Regions from separate parts of the Homo sapiens genome. Here all the other regions are linked to region 3. Evidence: fine-mapped expression QTL. A gene starts in region 3. Each other region holds a variant in brackets. All regions are shown on one strand. Distances are from middle to middle.

Region 1 (4,166 bases), 73 kb before region 3:
ATGAGGAAGGGAGATGAGAGTTGAAAAACTACCTACTGGGACCATGTTTACTATTTGGGCAATGGGTACACTAGCATCCTAAACCTCTCCATTATGCAATATATCCATGTAACAAACCCATACATGTATTCCTTGAATCTATAGTAAAAGAAGAGGAACAGAGTTGTACTTGAGAATAGTAGTTAATGAGCATTGTTTTTCTAAATTGATGGTTTTAGAGCAGTCCACTAGCATAAGCCCATGTCATGTGACCAATGCCATGTGTTCTTTTTGTTTTGTATTTAAAAAACAAAAAAGTACTGCTGGGCACAGTGGCTCGCGCCTATAGTCCTTGCACTTTAGGAGGCCAGGGCAGGAGGACTGCTTGAGGCCATGAGTTCAAGACCTGCTTGGGCAACATACCAAGACCTTGTCTATAAATTAGCCAGGTGTGATGGCTAATATTGAGCGTCAACTTGATTGGATTGAAGGATGCAAAGTATCATTCCTTGGTGTGTCTGTGAGGGCGTTGCCAAAGGAGGTTAACACTTGAGTCAGTGGACTGGGAGAGGAAGACCCACCCTTAATCTGAGTGGGCACCATCACCTTGGCTGCCAGCACAGCTAGAAAAAGCAGAAGAGGGCCGGATGCAGTGGCTGACACCTGTAATCCTAGCACTTAGAGAGGCCGAGACGAGCAGATCACAAAGTCAGGAGTTTGAGACAAGCCTGGCCAATATGGTGAAACCCTCGTGTCTACTAAAAATACAAAAATCAGCCAGGCGTGGTGGTGGGCGTCTGCAGTCCCAGCTACTCTGGAGGCTGAGGCAGGAGAATCGCTTGAACCCGGGAAGCAGAGGTTGCAGTGAGCCGAGATCATGCCACTGCACTCCAGCCTGAGCAACAGAGCAAGATTCTGTCAAAAAAAGAAAGAAAGAGGAGAGGAGAAGAGAAAAGAAAAAGAAAAAGAAAAAGCGGAAGAAAGTGGAATGAACAGACTTGCTGAGTCTCCTGACCTTCATCTTTCTCCAGTGCTGAATGCTTCCTGCCCTCGGACACCTCAGCTTTTGGACTCCTGGACTTACGTCAGTGGTTTGCCAGGGGCTCTTGTGCCTTCTGCCACAGACTGAAGCTGCAGCTTTTCTACTTTTGAGGTTTTGGGACTCAGGATGGTTTTCTTGCTCCTCAGCTTGCAGGCGGCCTGTTATGGGACTTCACCTTGTGATCGTGTGAGCCAATACTCCTTTTTTTTTTTTTTTGAGCTGGAGTTTCGCTCTTGTCACCTAGGCTGGAGTGCAATGGCACAATCTCGGCTCACTGCAATCTCCACCTCCCGGGTTCAGGCAATTCTCCTACCTCAGCTTCCCAAGTAGCTGGGACTGCAGGCATGCACCACCATGTCCGACTAATCTTGTATTTTTAGTAGAGACGAGTTTTCACCATGTTGGCCAGACTGGTCTCAAACCCCTGACTTCAGGTAATCAGCCTACCTCAGTCTCCCAAACTGCTGGGATTATAGGCATGAGCCACCGCGCCTGGCCCAGTACTCCTTAATAAACTCCCTTTCATATATACATCTATGCTATTAGTACTGTCCATCTAGAGAACCCTGACTAATACACCAGGCATGATGGCATGCGCCTGTAGTCCTGGCTACTCTGCAGGCTGAGGTGGGAGGATCGCTAGAGCCCAAGAGTTGGAGTTTGAGGCTGCGGTGAGCTATGATCCAGCCACGGCACTCCAGCCTAGTCAAGAGAGATCTTGCTTCAAAAAAAAAAAAAAAAGTATGATCATCCCTTCTTGAAATCAGTGTAATTGGTAGTTTATATTCTTTTTTCATACCAAGTCTTCCATATCTAGGATGTATTTATCAATTGCAGTACATCTCAATTTGGACTAAGCCTCATTTCAAGTACTCACGAGCCCCATGTGGTGAGTGGCTATTGTGTTGGACAGTTCAGACATAGAAACCACTCTTAGCATTTCAGCATTAGAGTATTTTCTTTGTACTTTTTTTCTCTTTTCTTCCTTCCTTCTTTTTTTCTTTGAAAACATGTTTAATTGGGTAAGCTGGATTTTGAAGGAAGTGAGGAAAATTCATATTCTGAGAGTCTCTAGTTTTAAATTTTAAGTGTTTCCAGTACAGCTCTCCATTGTTTGTTTTTAAGTGTTTTTGTTTGTTTGTTTGTTTTTTGTGACAGAGTTCTGCTCTGTCACCCAGGCTGGAGTGCAGTGGCACAGTCTCATCTCACTGCAACCTCTGCCTCCCAGGTTCAGGCAATTCTCCTGCCTCCGCCTCCTGAGTAGCTG[G/A]GATTACAGGTGCACGCCACCATGTCCGGCTAATTTTTGTATTTTGTAGAGACGGGGTTTCACCATGTTGGCCAGGCTGGTCTTGAGCTCCTGACCTCAGGTGATCCGCCTGCCTCAGCCTCCCAAAGTGCTGGGATTACAGGCATGAGCCACCATGCCTGGCCCTATTTTTACTTTTTTAAGATGGGGTCGGGCTCTGTCACCCAGGCCGGAGTGCAGTGGTGCAATCTTGGCTCACTGCAGCCTTGACCTCCTGGCTCAAGCGATCCTCCCACCTCAGCCTCCCAAATATCTGGGACTACATATGTGTGCCACCACACCCGGCTAATTTTTGTATTTTTTGTAGATACGGCATTTCACTATGTTGCCCAGGCTGGTTTCAAACTCTTGAGCTCAAGTGATCTGCCCATGTTGGCCTACCAAAGTGCTGGGATTCCAGGCGTGAGCCACCGTGCCCTGCTGTTTGTTTGTTTTTAAAAACTCAGGTGTGGCCGGGTGCTGGTGGCTCACGCCTGGAATCCCAGCACTTTGGGAGGCCGAGGTGGGCGGATCATGAGGTCAAGAGATGGAGACCATCCTGGCCAACACTGTGAAACCCCTTCTCTACTAAAGATACAAAAATTAGCTGGCCGTAGTGGCACACGCCTGTACTCCCAGCTACTTGGGAGGCTGAGGCAGGAGAATCGCTTGAACTCGGGAGGCAGAAGTTGCAGTGAGCTGAGATCGCACTACTGCACTCCAGCCTGGGCAATAGTGAGAGACTCCATCTCGATAAAACAAAACAAAACAAAACTAGGTGCACAGATTCTTTTGGGAAGATAAAAAGGCAGGAGAAGCCAGACGTGGTGGCTCATGCCTGTAATCCCAGCACTTTGGGATCACAAGTTCAAGAGATCGAGACCATCCTGGCCAACATGGTAAAACCTTGCCTCTACTAAAAATACAAAACTTAACTTGGTGTGCTGGCGCGCGCCTGTAGTCCCAGCTACTCGGGAGGCTGGGGCAGGAGAATTGCTTGAACTTGGGAGGCGGATGTTGCAGTGAGCCGAGATTACACCACAGCACTCCAGCCTGGGCCGCAGAGCGAGACTCCATCTCAAAAAAAAAGAAAAAACGCAGGAGAATGTGTTGCAGGTGCTGCTGATGAACACTCATTTCCTTTTATTCATTTGTTCATTTCTTTTCTCTCTCTTTTTATTTTTTATTTTTTGAGACAGGGTCTCACTCTGTTGCCCAGGCTTTAGTACACGTAGCTATTTTTTTTCTCATTTTTTGTAGAGATGGGCCTCCCTATGTTGTCCAGGCTGGTCTTGAACTCCTGGGCTCCAGCAATCCTCCTGCCTCAGCCTCCCAAAGTGCTGGGATTACAGGCATGAGCCATTACACCTGACCCATTTTTTCTCCTAGCAGCAGTTACTGGACATCAACTATGGGCCAGGGACTGCAACTTGGGATAGCTTTACAGACATGTTGCCTGGCTTGTGAAGCCTACAATTTACCAGAAGAGCCAGACAAGTAATGACAATAAAATGTGATAAGTGTTGTGATAGGGGAAGAATGAAGGGCTCAGTGGCTGCCTGGGAGAATAATTTAAGCCATTTTGGGAGATAAGAGAAGGCTTTGGTTGTTGGGGGTGGAGGGAATGATGTCTAAGATGGAACCTAAAGATTAAGTAAAGAATGGCTAAGCAAAGGGGAGAAATAAGGGCTAGAGAATGCCAGAAAGAGTGGCTTTAAGGAATGCCCAGAGCCTTTTGGGGAACTGAAAGAAGTTATGTGTGGTTAGGGCCTCCAGGGTGAGGGGTGAGGCTGGTATTGTGCATTATTCTCTGGGCAGCCTAGTTAACAGTGGGAGTTGGGAGGCAGGATGTTGACAAAT
Region 2 (4,166 bases), 49 kb after region 3:
GTGTCTGGGATGGTCCCCATTGGTTCCCATCTCAGGTGCCCAGTTAAAGATGAAAGGCACAAAGCCCCTGCTGCAAGGTGGATGGGAAGGGCTGTAATCACCTCTGACACCTGCTGAGACCTGAACCTCTGCTCTGTGCCTCCCCAACCAAATAACAACCTGAGGCCTCTCCTCAGCCCTCCATCACTCTCTCCTCCATAGTATCTGACTGGAGATCCAGAAGTTCATTACAAACTGGTCACCTCCACCGGAAGGGAAGCAACGACAGCTACAGCTGTAAAATAGGGAGACAGGTTTGCTTATTTTAATAGAAGGAATAAAATGCAGTTATTTTTTCAGGGCCAAAGAAAATCAAGCACTTTGCTTCAAGCAAAACTGAGATCTCCATGCAGAAAGAGACAGGTCTGGGTTTGAATCCTGGCTCCACCACTCAACAGCCATGTGAGTTTCCTGCACTTATATTTCCTATCTGTGAAATGACAATGCCAGCCACTCACAGGATTCTTAGTGAGACAAGCATGAAGGTGCCCAGGGCAGGGCTGGGTCACTGCAGACCTTCGGCGTCAGTCCCTTTCTCCAGAGGACAGCTCTACTCATTCACCCAGTCCCTGGAGTTTGTGATAGTCTCTGCCCCAAATCCCCTTCAGTTTCCTTCTCTTCTCTTCCCAGTCCTCTGAATCCTCCAGGCCAGATGCTCTGTAGTCACTGTCTTAATTCCATCTGCATCCCCAACTTCCAACACCCACTAGGAAGTGTCTCTTAGAATCATACATATGACAACGCTTAAAAACATGGGCTATGTCCTCACACACATAAGTTCAAATCTTGGTTCTGCCTGGTACAAAGGCACATGATCTTAAGGGATCTCTGGTGATGATAATCCTGCTTATCTTCCAGGGTGGTGAAGATTACATGAGTTTTCCATATTAGATGCTAAGCATATTTCCTGGCTTGCAGAAAGAGCTTGGAAAGTGCTAGCCATGGTGACTATCAGTTCTTTCTCACACGTGCCCCATCTGGGGCAGACCCCCATCACTGCACACCTGAAGACAAGGGAGCTTCCTGGCTGCTCTCCTGCCCCTAGCCTCTCACTACCCTAATCAAACCTACATCCTGTTGCCAAACTCCGCTTCCTTCCATGCCCCTTGGGGGTCTAGTTCAAGAACCCACTGAGGCAAAACATTCAGTCCAAGCCCTCACCCACCCTTCCCCCAAACTCTACTTCCTACCACTTCCTAAAAACACACTTGCCACTCCAATCTGCCAGCTCTCCTGTCACCCAAAGGTATAAACCACCGTGGCTCTGCCCTTCCAAGCCTCTGCTCAGCACAGCTCCTCTCAGCTGCCACACCCTACTCCCTTCTACAACCTCCTGCTTAGGTGTCACCTCCTCCAGGAAGCCTTCTCTGACCTGACCTTTCCTCTCCACGCTCCCTTCTCTGAACTTCCGTAGTTTTCATCAGCACAAAGGCAGCCATATCCTTCGAGCCCTGAGACAGCCCTCAAGGCACATCTGAAGTAAACATTTGGTCATCAAGTGAGTCTACTTTACAATGGAAAACCAGGAGGGAGACAGCGGTTAAACGGCAAGCCAGAATCCCAATACTTATTAGTAACACCGGAAAAAAATAGAGTAACTATTGCAAAGAGCTCAAGTTTGAAATTACGATTTTAAGAGCCCAGGATTACTTTATACCACAGAAAGTCCCTAGTTATTAGCTGGTTTACTTGTCATTTCTCTTGGTTTCATAAAAATAACCACTTTGGGGCCAGGCGTGGTGACTCACGCCTGTAATCCCAGC[A/C]CTTTCGGGGGCTGAGGTGGGCGGATCACGAGGTTAGGAGCTTGAGACCAGTCTGGCGAACATGGTGAAGCCCCATCTCTACGAAAAATAAAAAAATTAGCCGGGCGTGGTGGCGCACGCCTGTAATTCCAGCTACTCAAAAGGCTGAGGCAGGAGAACTGCTTGAACCCAGAAGACGGAGGTTGCAGTGAGCCAAGATTGTGCCACTGCACCCCAGCCTGGGTGACAGAGCGAGACTCCGTTTCAAAAAAAAAAAAAAAAAGAAAAAAGAAAAAAAAGTCATGTTGAAAATATCAGATTGTTTTCTCTAATTGCAAGAACCATTTGGATGTTTCTTGCACAACCACGTGAAGGTGCCAGGGGTCTCCATCTCCTCCCGTTTAACTTCCATCACCTTCCCAACCACTCCAAATAAACACAGAAGTAAAAACTGTGCTTACAATTCAAATGTAGCTCTAAGGCCCTCCTAGCACTTCTGGAGCTGACTTTGCACACAGTGAGGACACTAAAAGGCTGATGAACACGCTGACTGCCTGCAGACAGAGCAGAGGGATGGCGCTAGCCCCCCACTCTGCCTTGGACACCACCTTCTCCTCCTCCGAAACACCACACTCCTCTACCTTGGAAGGGTGCTCCCGCCCTCTCCCTATGAGGTTCTGCGTCTCACCACTGTCCTGAAGGGTCTGGGTCAAGTCTTCCACCAGGGCCGCTGCCTCCTCACTGCTTTCAGGCCGATGCTCTTGCAGCCAAGCCTGAATTTCCTTTGGCAGCATGGTTAACATCTGCTCCTTGGTGTGTACCTCTGGTCTCAGCCAGCGCCGGCAGAGCTCTCGGAGGCGGCCGAGTGCACCCTGTGGTCCCCTGGTCACCTCCTCCTGGGGGCCGCCCTTGCCAGCACTCTGGGGAAAGGGCTCAGACTCAGGGCCATCCTCCTGCAGCACAGCTTCTTGCACCCAGGAGTCATCCTCCAGGATCATGGTGGTGACCTCCTCCTCCTGTCTATCTTCCTCTTGAGGCACCTGGACCAAGGAGCTCAGCGGAGTGGTCACTCTCGGGATGTCTGCAGCCATCATCCACAGTCCTGGGGCAATCACTTAGGCTTCAAGCCTTGGACCTCAGTCTTCTCCAGCCAGGCTCTCAGGTAAGACACTTCCCTCCTCAAATATCAACAAGTAGTCCCGCTGAGAAACAAAAAAGAGAACCATAATCCATAGGTAGACTGTCCTAAAGCAATCTAACTCACAAAAGCCCAGGTCAGACCACCAAGTGGCCCTTACATATGCAAACCAACAGACGTTTCCTGTTCTTCTTAAAGAAAAAATGGCTTATTCCTGAAAACATCTCTCTGTGGTAAAAGAAGGCTGGGTGCAGTGTCTCATGCCTGTAATCCCAGCACTTTGGGAGGCCGAGGTGGGCGGATCACCTGAGGTATGGTGAAACCCCATTTCTATTAAAAATACAAAAATTAGCCGGGCGTGGTGGCGGGGGCCTGTAGTTCCTGCTACTTGGGAGGCTGAGGCAGGAGAATCTCTTGAACCCAGGAGGCGGAGGTTGCAGTGAGCACAGATCTCGCCACTGCACTCCAGCCCAGGCAACAGAGTGAGACTCCGTCTCAAAAAAAAAAAAAAAAAAGTATCCCAAGCACAAAAAATACAGCATTGTTCCTTCCAAAACACCAAAGAATGAGTATCAGAAATGCAAAGTCCCCGGGAAAAACCCATGACTGAAATACTGAGGACTCTCCTAAGTCAGTTTCGACTTGCACTGTGTGACCTTGACCTAACATACAACTTAGTCACCAAACTCGGTGACCACCTAATAAAGATAATAACACTCATGTTTCTGTTTTTATGGGGGCATCTTAAGGATCAGCAATGGATCAGATGTCAAAGCACTCTGAGCTTCTTTGGAAGAAAGGCAATATCTCAACTGCATTATTACCATACTTTAAGTATGAAGTTTAAAACATGCATATACTCTCCAATCCAGCCTCGGCCCCTCAGTACTTTATCTTAAAAAAATAACCAAAAAATCGAGTCCTTAAAAATCCAGCAGCAGGGAATGGCTAATAAACTATGACACACCCATATAGCAGCATGTATTAGAAACTGTGCTATAGGCTTGGCGTGGTTGCCTGTAATCCCAGCACTTTGGGAGGCCTCGGCAGGCGGATCACTTGAGGTCAGGAGTTCGAGACCAGCCTGGCCAATATAGTGAAACCCCGTCTCTACCAAAAATACAAAAATTAGCCAGGCATGGTGACGGGCGCCTGTAATCCCAGCTACTCAGGAGGCTGAGGCAGGAGAATTGCCCGAACCTGGGAGGAGGAGGTTGCAGTGAGCCGAGATCGTGCCACTGCACTCC
Region 3 (4,166 bases):
GAGGCACAGAACCAGCAGCCCCTGAGGACCTCAGATGTAAGGCCTAGGAGCTTGGGCTGGCTGAGTCTGAAGGGAAACAATGTCACCTCTAATGCCCTTGGTTTTGAAGCTCTGACACATGCAGACCAACTAGAGAATCTCAGAAGCAGCAGTGCCTACGTCTGGGGCTTCAGAGTGAGGTCTGGGGCAGAGCTGGGGTGGGGGAGTGAGGACGCTGACACTAGCCCAGCACCAAGCACTGTATTTGGATTTTCTTCCACGATCTTCTTTGACTGTCATGACCACCCTGGGTGGTTGGGGCTGTGTTCTGAGAAAACTACTGCCCCGACCCCTCCAAGGCAATTCAGGGTGCTCTGGGGCCTGCCTCAGCTGACAGCCTGCTGGTGCCCACCTCTGCAGACATCTGGCACTTAGGAATGGCAGGATGCCCCTATCTTTATCAGGAGCCCCTCCCTGGCTCAATTCTTCTGTATGTTTCTCTTCAGTACAGGAGGCTGCTGGTACAAATACTGCAGAAATGACACCAATAATGGGGCAGACACAACAGCGTGGCTTAGATTGTGCCCACCCAGGGAAGGTGCTGAATGGGACCCTGTTGATGGCCCCATCTGGATGTAAATCCTGAGCTCAAATCTCTGTTACTCCATTACTGTGATTTCTGGCTGGGTCACCAGAAATATCGCTGATGCAGACACAGATTATGTTCCTGCTGTATTTCCTGCTTCCCTGTTGAATTGGTGAATAAAACCTTGCTCTTTACATACAATGCCTGGTCCTCTCCTTTCACCCGTCTTTTAGGGGATGGGAGGAAAAGGGGGCTGGAGGGCAGAGTGTTCAGTGAGATGGGGCTGGCTCAAAAAGTCCAGAATACCCCATGCCATGGCACCAGCCTGGCACTGACTCTGGCCTCCTACCCATTCATTCAGCAAGCAAATAACGCCTGTTGCATGCCAGGCTTCGTGCCAGGCGCGGGGTTCTACTCTCATCTCTGCCACCTACTGGCGCAGGCAAGTGTCACTAGTTTCCTCGCTAGTAAAAGGGGGCTGCAGACACTACACTGCCGGGCTTTACTCAATACCCCCGCCGGACTTGGAGGGGAGCGCCGAGTTGGGATCCAGACCCTGCCGGCCGCTTCCTCTCTTCTCTGGCCGTCAGAAGGGTTGCCAGCGTTAGCAAATAAAAATACTGGACACCCAGTTAAATTCGAATTTCAGATAAACAATAATTTTATCTAATAAAATGTACCAAATATTGCATGAACATACTCGTAAGAAAGAAATTATTCACCGTTTTTCTGAAATTCGAATTTAACCGGGCGGTCCTGTATTATTTCTGGCCTTGGAGCATTCATTGCCCCTCTCTTGGGCTGCAAACACCTGGCCCTAAAACGGGCGATCATTTGGTCCTCAGGTCCTGCTTGGAGCTGACAGCGGGAAAGTCCCGATTTCAGGTCACTTTTCCCGGAGCTTTCGCGGAGAAAACCCGTAACCCACCCATGCCGGGCCGCAGCTCAGCCTGTTAACCCCGCCCCTAACGGGAGGCCCTGCCCACATCTCGCGAGAGCCGCGCGGCCCCCGAAGGCTCGCAGGCGGAAGTGAGACGCCGGAAGCGGTCGTTGCCATGGATCCTGGGGACGACTGGCTGGTGGAATCCTTGCGCTTGTAAATCGTACGGGGCTGGGACATGGGAGCTGGGCCTGGAGCTTGCCTGGCGGGCGGATGGGTGTGGGTGGAGGCACGTTGGGGATCCTGGTGCAGAGTGGGCCAGCTGTGGCCTCGGGGCTCGCCACCGTGGAGGACTCCGCCTGGGCCTAGGCCCCCATCTCTAGGAAATGGCTCCTTCCTGCGTGCGCGCGTTGTGAGATTACTAGTAAGAGCCGCGCTTGTGAAGACGCAGTGCCCAGTTAGTTTGCGCCAGCCTCTGAGTTCAGCTCAGAACACAGATGATCTCATTGATTCCTCACGTCAACCTTGGGAAATCTGGGTACCCTGGGACGTCCACACATGAGGACCGAGGCTCAGGGACATCAAGGGACTGGCCTGGTCCCAGAAACAGGGAGTAAAATGGGAAGTAAACTCAGTCCCACGTCTGCCTGACTCCAGAGTTTGGGCCACTGAACCATGCGGCTGCCATCTTGGAGTTCTTTGAGCTGTGAAGTGCTGTGCATCGTGTGATTCTGTGTCCCTTTTGTGCAGGTACCAGGATTTCTATGCATTCGACCTGTCAGGAGCCACTCGAGTCCTTGAATGGATTGATGACAAAGGTGGTATACCTTTCTAGCCCTGAAGGAGAGGGAATCTCACTCCTGAGCTGGGTTTCAGGAGCTAAGCCTAGAGGGACCCAACCCACTCTTCTGGGCACCTGAGAGTCACTTGTAGCAATTTGATGCCCCATCAGCACTAATATTCCTCTTATTAAGATCTCTGACCGGGAGCAGTGGTTCACGCCTGTAATCCCAGCACTTTGGGAGGCCGAGGCAGGCGGATCACCTGAGGTCAGGAGTTCGAGACCAGTCTGGCCAACATGGTGAAACCCCGTCTCTACTGAAAATACAAAAATTAGCCGGACGAGGTGGTGCACACCTGTGTACCAGCAGCTACTGGGGAGGCTGAGGCAGGAGAATCACTTGAACCCAGGAGGTGGAGGTTGCAGTGAGCTGAGATCACGACACTGTATTCCAGCGTGGCTAACAAAAAAAGTCTTCAGGCTGGGCACTTCAGGAGGCTGAGGCAGCGGGCAGATTGCTTGATCCCAGGAATTTGAGACTAACCTAAGCAAGGAAACCCTGTCTCTACAAAAAATACAAAAATTAGCCGAGCATGGTGGCTCACGCCTATAATCCCAGCTACTCTGAAGGCTGTGGTGGGAGGATCACTTGAGCCTGGCAGGTTGAGGCTGCAGTGAGCTGTGATCGGACCACTGCACTCCAGCCTGGCTGACACAGCGAGACCTTGTCTGAAAAAGACACAACCAGGTACTCAATTCCTCCATACAAGGCTGCACAGTGAAGGAATGTATCCTTACTTCGGGGGATTGCATGGTCTGCAATCTTTCTAACAATTTGTGACAGCTACCTCTGCTTCTTTTTCCAGGAGTCTTTGTTGCTGGCTATGAAAGCCTGAAAAAGAATGAAATTCTTCATCTGAAATTACCTCTCAGACTTTCTGTAAAGGAAAACAAGGTAACTTAAAATATAAATGCTGAGTATGTCAACTTTTATTTATTTATTAAACATTTGTGGAGCTCCTGTTATCTACCAGGTATTGTCCTGGATACTAGAAAGAGAGAAAGCGCTAGGCCTGCCCTTCTAGTCTAACAGAGGGAGGCACATATGCACAGAGATAAATGCTGTAGAATGTCTCGTGGTTTACAGAGGGCTATCAGAGGAGGAGGTCAGTTATACTTTATCAGAAATAGATTTAGGGAGCGATTAAGGATATAGAGGGCGGTCGAAATGCGTAGAGTGATTAAAGTCACCTAGTGAATGTGTGGTATATAAGGAGTGAGGAGAATATAGTGAGGACGGAACCTCAGGGAACACATTTAAGGGATGAGTACAGGAAGATGCACCCCCCCTCCCCAAAGAATACTAAGAAAGAACAGCCTCTGAGGTAAGAGGAATCTCAGAAAAGGTCAATGTTTCTGAAGCCAAGAGAAGAGAACTTCTCAAGAAAAAAAGAGTTAGTAGCTGTCTAGAGTTCCAATAAAATCATTGAGAGAAGAATTGAAGGCCAGGTGCAGTGGCTTACGCCTGTAATCCCAGCACTTTGGGAGGCCGAGTTGGGCGGATCATGAGGTCAGGAGTTCGGGACCATCCTGACCAACATGGTGAAACCCCGTCTCTACTAAAAATACAAAAATTAGCCAGGCATGGTGGCGCACACCTGTAATCCCAGCTACTCAGGAGGCTGAGGCAGGAGAATTGCTTGAACCCGGGAGGCGGAGGTTGTAGTGAGCTGAGATCGTGCCACTGCACTCCAGCCTGGGCAACAGCAAGACTGCATCTCAAAAAAAAAAATCATTCAGATGAGGAATTGAGTTCATTCATAAGACTGGCAATTGGGAAACTCTTGGTGACCTCTGCTACAGGATTTTTGCTGGTGGTGGTCAGGCCCAAAGACTAAAAATGAAGAGGAAGCAGAGTCACGAAATGTAGGGAGGGAAGA

Evidence for each region. PIP is the estimated chance that this variant, and not a neighbour inherited with it, causes the effect.
Region 1: its variant is the best candidate, but not a certain one, in a credible set for the expression of WDR73 in whole blood (TOPMed, PIP 0.59).
Region 2: its variant is the best candidate, but not a certain one, in a credible set for the expression of WDR73 in tibial artery (GTEx, PIP 0.69).

Annotation. Positions count from the first base shown.
Region 1 is chr15:84,725,088-84,729,253 of GRCh38, reverse strand. No RefSeq gene overlaps it. Among named protein-coding and RNA genes, the nearest start is that of SEC11A, 11 kb to the right of the region's middle. The variant G/A (reference allele first, on the strand shown) is at 2,289.
Region 2 is chr15:84,602,637-84,606,802 of GRCh38, reverse strand. ZSCAN2 (zinc finger and SCAN domain containing 2) reads right to left here. Exons shown (of 3, transcript NM_181877.4): 2 at 2,470-2,983. The coding sequence starts at 2,875. LOC105370947 (a long non-coding RNA gene) reads left to right here. Exons shown (of 4, transcript NR_186225.1): 2 at 340-441; 3 at 2,818-2,943. Among named protein-coding and RNA genes, the nearest start is that of ZSCAN2, 3.7 kb to the right of the region's middle. RefSeq lists an enhancer at 2,751-3,379. The variant A/C (reference allele first, on the strand shown) is at 1,803.
Region 3 is chr15:84,651,729-84,655,894 of GRCh38, reverse strand. It overlaps WDR73 (WD repeat domain 73), which reads left to right and starts at 1,612. Exons shown (of 8, transcript NM_032856.5): 1 at 1,612-1,661; 2 at 2,196-2,263; 3 at 3,093-3,181. The coding sequence starts at 1,621. NMB (neuromedin B) reads left to right here. Exons shown (of 3, transcript NM_021077.4): 3 at 486-763. The coding sequence ends at 521. RefSeq lists enhancers at 1,626-1,865, 1,292-2,259.